Linked DNA regions of Homo sapiens. The protein of the gene in region 2 purifies or fractionates together with the protein of the main gene of each other region. This does not show direct contact. Each region holds a gene or a part of one and is shown on either strand. Other genes may lie near its edges.

Region 1 (3,500 bases), on a different chromosome or scaffold from region 2:
AACAATGAAATCCATTAGAAGATAACTGAAAGACCTATAGTCTAATGATTTGGCCTTAGAAAAACTGAAAGTGAAGAAATTCAGATATTGGCTCCTGTTTATCTTAAGTCAGCGATAATTCTACTAGTTTTTAAAGCCCTTAAACATATCATGGGAAATTCAAAGGGCTATAAATAAAAATATATATGAATAGATATATAAATTAGAACATATATATATTACACACATATATTCTTAATTTGATATTATCCGTATTTTGGAAGAGGGAACTGTGATGCAAATAACTAGTCTGTGGATCATTCAAGCATCTTTTAAAAAGCAGTAATAATGTAGCACATAATTTGTGGAAAATTGTTCATAATAGATGCTGAATATTGGACATTCCTTTTTGTATGTGACTACACATAACCACTATACACCACAGCAACTCTACTGCAATGTTGGAATCCTCTATGTCATTTGCTAATGCACTGTGTAGCCTTTATTGTCACTCATGTTAAAGAATTTGATGAAGGCCGGGCATGGCGGCTCATGCCTGTAATCCCAGCACTTTGGGAGACCAAGGCGGGCGGGTCATGAGGTCAGCAGATCAAGACCATCCTGGCTAACAGGGTGAAACCCCATCTCTACTAAAAATGCAAAAATTAGCTGGGCGTGGTGGTGCATGCCTGTAATCCCAGCTACTCAGGAGGCTGAGGCAGGAGAATCATTTGAACCAGGGAAGCGGAGGTTGCAGTGAGCCGAGATTGCGCCATTGCACCACAACTTGGGCAACAAGAGCAAAACTCTGTCTCAAAAAAAAAAAAAAAAAAAAAAAAAAGAATTTAATGAAAAAATGTAATCAAGTTTCTTGACTTTGGTACCCTAAATGATGATTTCAGGCTAAGCCAAGATAATATCAGAAGGTCCCATTGAGAGAATGAAAATGATAATGCCAGATGCTGGTTAGCTTGCAAACCAAAAATCATCTGTGGTATCGCACTTAATTGACTACGCCAGCACTTCCCAAAACACTGTTTCTCAGATACTTCAGATATTTACAGGAAGATGTTGATACTGTATTAGGTATTGGAGAATATTCTCATGGCCAAATTCATTTGGCAACAATAAGCTAACCTGGTCATTTAGCTTGGACTTTCTCAAAGCTGAAGTGTATTGAGAATTTTTAAGAAGGGGAATTATGATACACACATTATTCAATATTGTTTAATCATAAAATTCTCATACAAATATTACTCAATTACTCTATAAACTTTTTTTTTTTTTTGAGATGAAGTCTTGCTTTGTCATCCAGGCTGTAGTGCAGTGGCACGATCTCGGCTCACTGCAACCTCTGCCTCTCAGTTTCAAGGAATTCTCCTGCCTCAGCCTCCCAAGTAGCTGGGATTACACGCGCCTATCACCAAGCCCAGTTAATTTTGTATTGTTAGTAGAGATGGGGTTTCACATGTCCATAAACTTTCAACATCTTTGTGGCTTCTGTAACTACACTCAGGGGATTTTCTTCTTCCTATAAATCATTTCTAAACCTCCTTTGCTGGTTTCTGCTCTTTCCTGCAGTAAACTCATATGTTTCTGTGACTGAAACCAGCAGCTTTCTGCGGATGACTTTAAATTGAAATCATTCCAGAATTCCACACTGGAATGTTTATTAGTGTCTGTCTGGAAAGAAAGTTTCACTGGAGTGGTCAACAGCACCTCAATCTCATGCAACTCATTCACCTAAAAAACACTTCTAGAGAGTCTATGTTGACCTGGGCTCACAGCTAGTTGCTGGAGCTCTAAAAATCAGCATAATAATAAAACTACCTGAATAAATTTTAGCACAGCAAAATTAAAACCGTGCAATATCTGGCTTCCTCCTATCTCCCATGTTACAGCACTTTTCCAAAAATTTATTCCTCTACTGGACTGCTTTCTTTCTTTTGAATATTTTATGTATTTTTCCATGTGTCAACTGTTGTCAGACTGCATTCTCTATATTTTCTATATTTTTCCACATATTTAAATTTCTTTATTTCTTTTTTATTTATTTTTGTCTTTTTGTTTTTTTGTTTAGATAGACTCTTGGCTCTGTTGCCAGGCTGGAGTGCAATGGTGCAATCTTGGCTCACTGCAACCTCTGCCTCCCGGGTTCAAGCAATTCTCCTGCATCAGCCTCCCGAGTAGCTGGGATTTCAGGTGTGCACCACCAACATCAGCTAATTTTTGTATTTTTAGTAGAGATGGGGTTTCACCATGTTGGCCAGGCTGGTCTTGAACTCCTGACCTCAGGCGATCCACCCGCCTCGGCCTCCCAAAGTGCTGGGATTAAATTTCTTCATGGTCAATTCACATGCAAAAAAATGGCTCTCCCATTTGAATTAATAATGTCTTCCCATGAGCTTCCATTTTTCTGAATTTTTATTAAATTATACATTTTATTCTTTATTATATATCTTGAAATATAGATAGTTTGATCTATCTGTCTTCCCTACCAGACAGACAGTGCTTAGGGGCAGGAATTCTATTATTATTTTTGTATCACCATAGTGTCTAGCACAATGCTTCTTTCAGAGAAAACAGAGGATAAATGTATACTGGATTAGCAATTTTGATGGAGAGAGTAAATATTCCACTATACTCAGATCATATGTATAATATAGTGATATAGAGACTGCATTATGTAAATATGTGTTTAGAAATAAACTTGTCTAAACCTGTTAAACTTGCCAACTTTTTTTTTTGTTTATACTAATTTGTATGAAATTGTTATATTTGCTTACTCTAAATGACAGCTATCTACTCCTTGTAAGTTACAGTTGATTTAACCTTAACTTTATAGTATGGAACTATAGATGTGTGAAATTCAGATTTCTTTTTAATGCCATTATAATTTATAAGTGGGCAATGATTATTTTCTAAGAGGTAGAACCACATATATAGCCAACTCATTATAATCATTGACTTTAAGTATAAAAATAATAAAATATTTTCTACTATTTTAGACACTCTTCAATCACATTCACTCTGGAAATAGATAACTTTGCCTCATAGTAGAAAAAAATGAGTGACAACTAAACAATGATGTGGCTATAATAAAGAAAATATCATGAAACTAAAGCAACACCCAACTTCTATTTACTTTTGAGTACACATTCTTCAATTTTGTGCCAAAATATTTTTCCTGATTTTTCCCTAAAATAATTTAAGTGACGAAATTTATTAAGGAATGAAAAAAACAAAAAGTATTGCCATGGGTATTCAAATCACCCAGTTTTATTTAGGAAGGCATTTTATTCATGACTTTTGTCAAATGGAAAACAAAATGGCCTAATCAAAAAAAATGACATCAGCATATTTGATTCAATCTTGGAATTAGCGTGATCCATTAGCTACTGCATCAGATTCAGAATGTCTGATGCCAAAGTATTAAATAGAATAGTATCCCTCAAGAAACATACTACACATGTTGGGAGTTAGAAAATAACAAATTTTCTCTCTCATTCCATAAAGAACTG
Region 2 (4,094 bases):
CAACTCCTATCAAATCCTAGGCCCCCTGCAACGCCTGGCAGCTCTCTCTCTTGAACACATCAAGCTCTTCCATCCTCTGGATTTTTGCAAGGCCTATTTCTGCAGTCTCTCCCCTGTCCTCACCTCCCCCTTCCTTACCTCTTAAGTGATTCATCCACCTTTCTGAGAGCTTTCCCAAAGGCCACCTTACAATAAATTATTTCTTCCTCTGTTGGATCCCTACTTTGTTGTTACACATCTATTCATTGAGCGCTCTGTGCCCGACACTGTGCTGGTTTCCTAAAACTCATCCAAGCCTCTTGCTTTCTGCCTGGAGTGAAGAGTAGTTCACGTTCTGATTCTCAGTGCCTCTAGGGCTGGAGCGGAATCTTAATGTCTGTGTCCTCGTCTCTCACCACCGCGTTTTGCACTTTGTCGAAAGGTGTCAGATGGTGAGATGGCTTCTAGACTGGGCTCTGCCCACTAATTAGCTGTGTGGCCTTGGGAGAATCATCCGGCCTCTCTTGCTGCCCTTCTTTCCGATGAAATAATGCTGACGATGATATTTCAGGGTTGTCCAGGGGTCAATGAGGCGGGATAGAGGGAAGCATCGTGAAATCTGGGAGCCCCAGGCCAGCGAAAAATGTGGAAGGGCCGTACCCGCACTCTCCTAGCACTGGGTGTGAGGCAGCGTCGTTTCCCCTTCGCGCTCTTCGAATGTCAAGTGCACCAGCTTCCAATCCCTCCTCTGGGCGGGCCCGGTCTGGCTAATCTCAGCTGCAGATTCCAGTACAAACTCAGGACTCTCCCCCGCCCAGCCGCCCCTACACAAGGACTCGCCGAACACACCTTGAATCCCGCGCCAGAGCGCAGCCCGGAACTGCAGCTCGCGGCGCGGGCCCAGGTCGGGGGTCGCGCGTCTCCAGTCGGTGACTCAAGGCCGCTCGGTCCGGGGGTGGGTGTGGGTCGGCAGGACCGACCAGGGCCGCGCGGGGGCAGCTGCCGGGCGTTCGGTCACCTAGCGGTGGGAGCCGAGGCTGGCTTTGGCCAGTCGCCATTCCGCCGCGGGCGTCTGTCTCGCCGGGTTCCCGGGCGCGGGAGGAAGGCCCGCGCCGCTTCCCACTCGGCGCGCTTCTCTCCCAGTGCGCAGTGGCCTGGTGGGTCAGCCGGCGGCGGCTGGAGCGCGGGGCCGGCCCTGCGCACGAATGAATGGGCGCCCGGGGGACGCGCGCGCTCGGGGCTGAAGGGCATTAGGACCGTGAGGATCGCTCCGCGATCCTGTCTCTCCCTATCACCCCCCCGCCCCCCCACCTCTCTCCTTTTTCTGCTCTGCAGGACTGAGCAGCTAGGCGCGAGCGAAAACAAACAGCTGGGGCTGCGAGCGCCCCCGCCCCGGCCCCGAGAGCACGCCGGCCCAGTCCCCCACCTGGGGCGCCCGTCTGCCCACCATGAGGAAGATCCGCGCCAATGCCATCGCCATCCTGACCGTAGCCTGGATCCTGGGCACTTTCTACTACTTATGGCAGGACAACCGAGCCCACGCAGCATCCTCCGGCGGCCGGGGCGCGCAGAGGGCAGGCAGGAGGTCGGAGCAGCTCCGCGAGGACCGCACCATCCCGCTCATTGTGAGTACGCCCCGAGCGTCGGCCGGCCGGCTAGGGAGCCGCGGCGCGCGTCCAGACCCTGCGCGGCGGCCGAGGGCGCGGGGCCCGGCCAGGGCTGAGTGCCCGCTGCGCCGGGCCGGCTTTGTATATGTTGGAGCATTCCTGCCCGTTGTTATGGCAACCTCTGCCGGGCGGCGGGGCTGGGGCGCACCGACTAAGGGAGGGTGACAGAGGGTGGGGGCTGGGAGAAAGTGCTGCAAGTTTGGTGGGCCCGGCGTGCGCGCGCGGCTGGGAACGTGGCGGCTCTCCCGGCTCTGCGCTGCCGGGGCCGGGAGTCTGGGGGCTGCGGGAGCCTCGTGTGCCCCGGAAGGCTGCCGGGCCCAGCGCGCGGCGAGCGGGCGGTGGGAACCACTCGCAGCCGAGCGCGTAGGTGGCAGTGCGCAGCCCCTCTCCAGCCTTCTGGGGGCAGAGGACATCGGGTGGGGGCGTGGGTAGGGGAAGGCTCTCTAGGCGCTGCGCCTGGCTTCGAACCCCCTTCTGAGCCGGGTCAACTTGAACCCGCTTCTTCGGCGCGGACACCCAGCTTCCCCGGAGTTCTCTGGGTTGAGGAGAGGTCTCGCACTGTACGCGTCTCTCACTCCCAACCTTAGGGTCCGCCACCACGGGTAGGTGGGCAGTGTCAGCGCCCGAACTTGGCGATACCCTTGCATGAAGTCAGCCTCGCGACATCTAAGCGGGCAGGGAAACAAAGGCAGTGTGGCACAGCGGGGGCGGCGGCGGGGCTGCGGGGGCCCTTGGCGCTCTGGGGACCCGGGCGGGGGCGTGCGGAGCCGCAGCCGCCCTGCAGGGGGCGATCCTGTCGCCGTCTCCGTCCGAGCCCCAGGTGACAGAGCTGTGCGTGGCCAGGCAGGGGCACCTGTTGAGGCGGGAGGCTTTGGCACCCGCCGAGAGTGCGCTCGAGCGGGCGCATTCTTCCAGACGGGGGCGGTTGGTGGACGAGAGCCTCGGACGACCCTCGGGAACTACCAGGGCGGGGCAGCCTGGCCGGATGAGGACCAGGAAGAGGAGAGCCGAGTGGGGCGGGGGTAAAGGAGTGAGGAAGCGTGGCGATTCCGACAAGGAAAGATCTGGGCCTGGGGGTGGAGGGGTGAGGAGATCCGCGGGGGAGGTGCAAGGTCCGGAGGGCTGAGGCTTGTGTGGAGCCGAATCCGAGAAACGCATCCAGACGCGGATCTGAACCCCAGGAATATCGGGAAGTTCATTGGAGAGTGTCCCCTCATATTCCCATCCTGCCCCAGATTCCGAGTCCCCTGCAAAGGAAACATTATTTCAGGGCTTTGCCTGAGGAGACCTGGGGCGGGGGGGTGAGGTTGTGGGTTTTGTCCTAGATACCAGTCTGGGTGAACTCTCTGGGGGCAAGCCTGATTAGGTGCACTGTTCCCTTCTGGGCTGTTCTCCCAGGACACTGTTTCCAAAGCACTTGTCGCCCTTTGGACAGAAAACTGATAAGGAAAAGCCTCCTGTGCTGAGGCCCCAGAGTGTTGTGATCTGAGCAGAGGGACAGGTTGGAGCTGGAACTGTCCAAACCAGCAGTGGCCTCCAGACCCCAGGGAGCTTCCTCTCCAGGAGCCCAGGCTGCCACATTCATACTCAGTGGCAGGAAGAGCCCTAGTCTCAGGCAAGGCAGGCTGGCCAGATGCTCTGTCCCTCTTTCTGGTGAGGCGATGAGAAGAGGGTCTGAGTTGGAAGGGGCGGAGAAAGAGGCTGGGCAGGGAGGAGAGGAGGGAAGAGAGCACAGGAGACTGCTGCTCAGAGCCTCTGCTTTGGAACCCGGAACCTGAACCCTGACCTGGCCCATGCACCTCTCTCCTGCTCCTTCCAGAGTCCTGTAAGATGCACTGGGAGGGCCGCTCACATTTCTCAAGAGTCCCAGAATGGTGTAGGGGACCTGCTGGAAGGATTCAGCACTCATTTTGAGGGGTGGGAATTGGAGGTCATGAGAATCACCAGTAAACATCCTCTTGTCCCTGCTTATTCCCACAGGGTTTGACTTGCTGCAGGTAAGAAAAGGTCTCAGAGCGGGAAGCTAAGTTTAAAGTATGAAGGAGTATCAGGGAGATACCTGGGAGCTGGGAAGTGAAGGTGCAGGAAGAAAGGGAGAATGGAAGTCCCTGGGAGTGGCAGAGCCTTCTGTGGCCACTTAGGGGCACAGCCAGCTCCCTCTTTGTTCTTAAGCTTTAGATGCCTGTTCCACCAGCACTGACCCCCCCGTCAGGCACCACTTTTGACAACTGCCTTGCATTGTTTCATTGTATTCCTCTCTTCCAGTTATTTCTTCCATGTGATTTGCAGCTGAATGTAAGTGATGCATGCGGGAACTGTGCTGGAAGCTCCTTGCATCCCCACATTGATGCACACAGCAAGATTTCTTTTTTTCTTTTTTTTTTTTTTGAGATGGAGTCTCACTCTGTCACCCAGGCTGGAGTGAGGTGGCATGATCTCGGCTCACTG

What was found. Proteins that work in one complex are often made in the same cells at the same time.
Region 1: the proteins of GALNT16 (region 2) and TRDN purify together in Homo sapiens (co-immunoprecipitation; one large-scale study listed by IntAct). This does not show direct contact.

The regions. Positions count from the first base shown.
Region 1 is NC_000006.12:123,504,451-123,507,950, forward strand, and holds part of TRDN (triadin), read right to left. Parts: intron 1-3,500. UniProt on the Homo sapiens protein: Contributes to the regulation of lumenal Ca2+ release via the sarcoplasmic reticulum calcium release channels RYR1 and RYR2, a key step in triggering skeletal and heart muscle contraction.
Region 2 is NC_000014.9:69,258,864-69,262,957, forward strand, and holds the start of GALNT16 (polypeptide N-acetylgalactosaminyltransferase 16), read left to right. Parts: upstream 1-1,294; 5' UTR 1,295-1,427; coding exon 1,428-1,604; exon of another isoform or gene 1,605-1,664; intron 1,665-4,094. UniProt on the Homo sapiens protein: Catalyzes the initial reaction in O-linked oligosaccharide biosynthesis, the transfer of an N-acetyl-D-galactosamine residue to a serine or threonine residue on the protein receptor.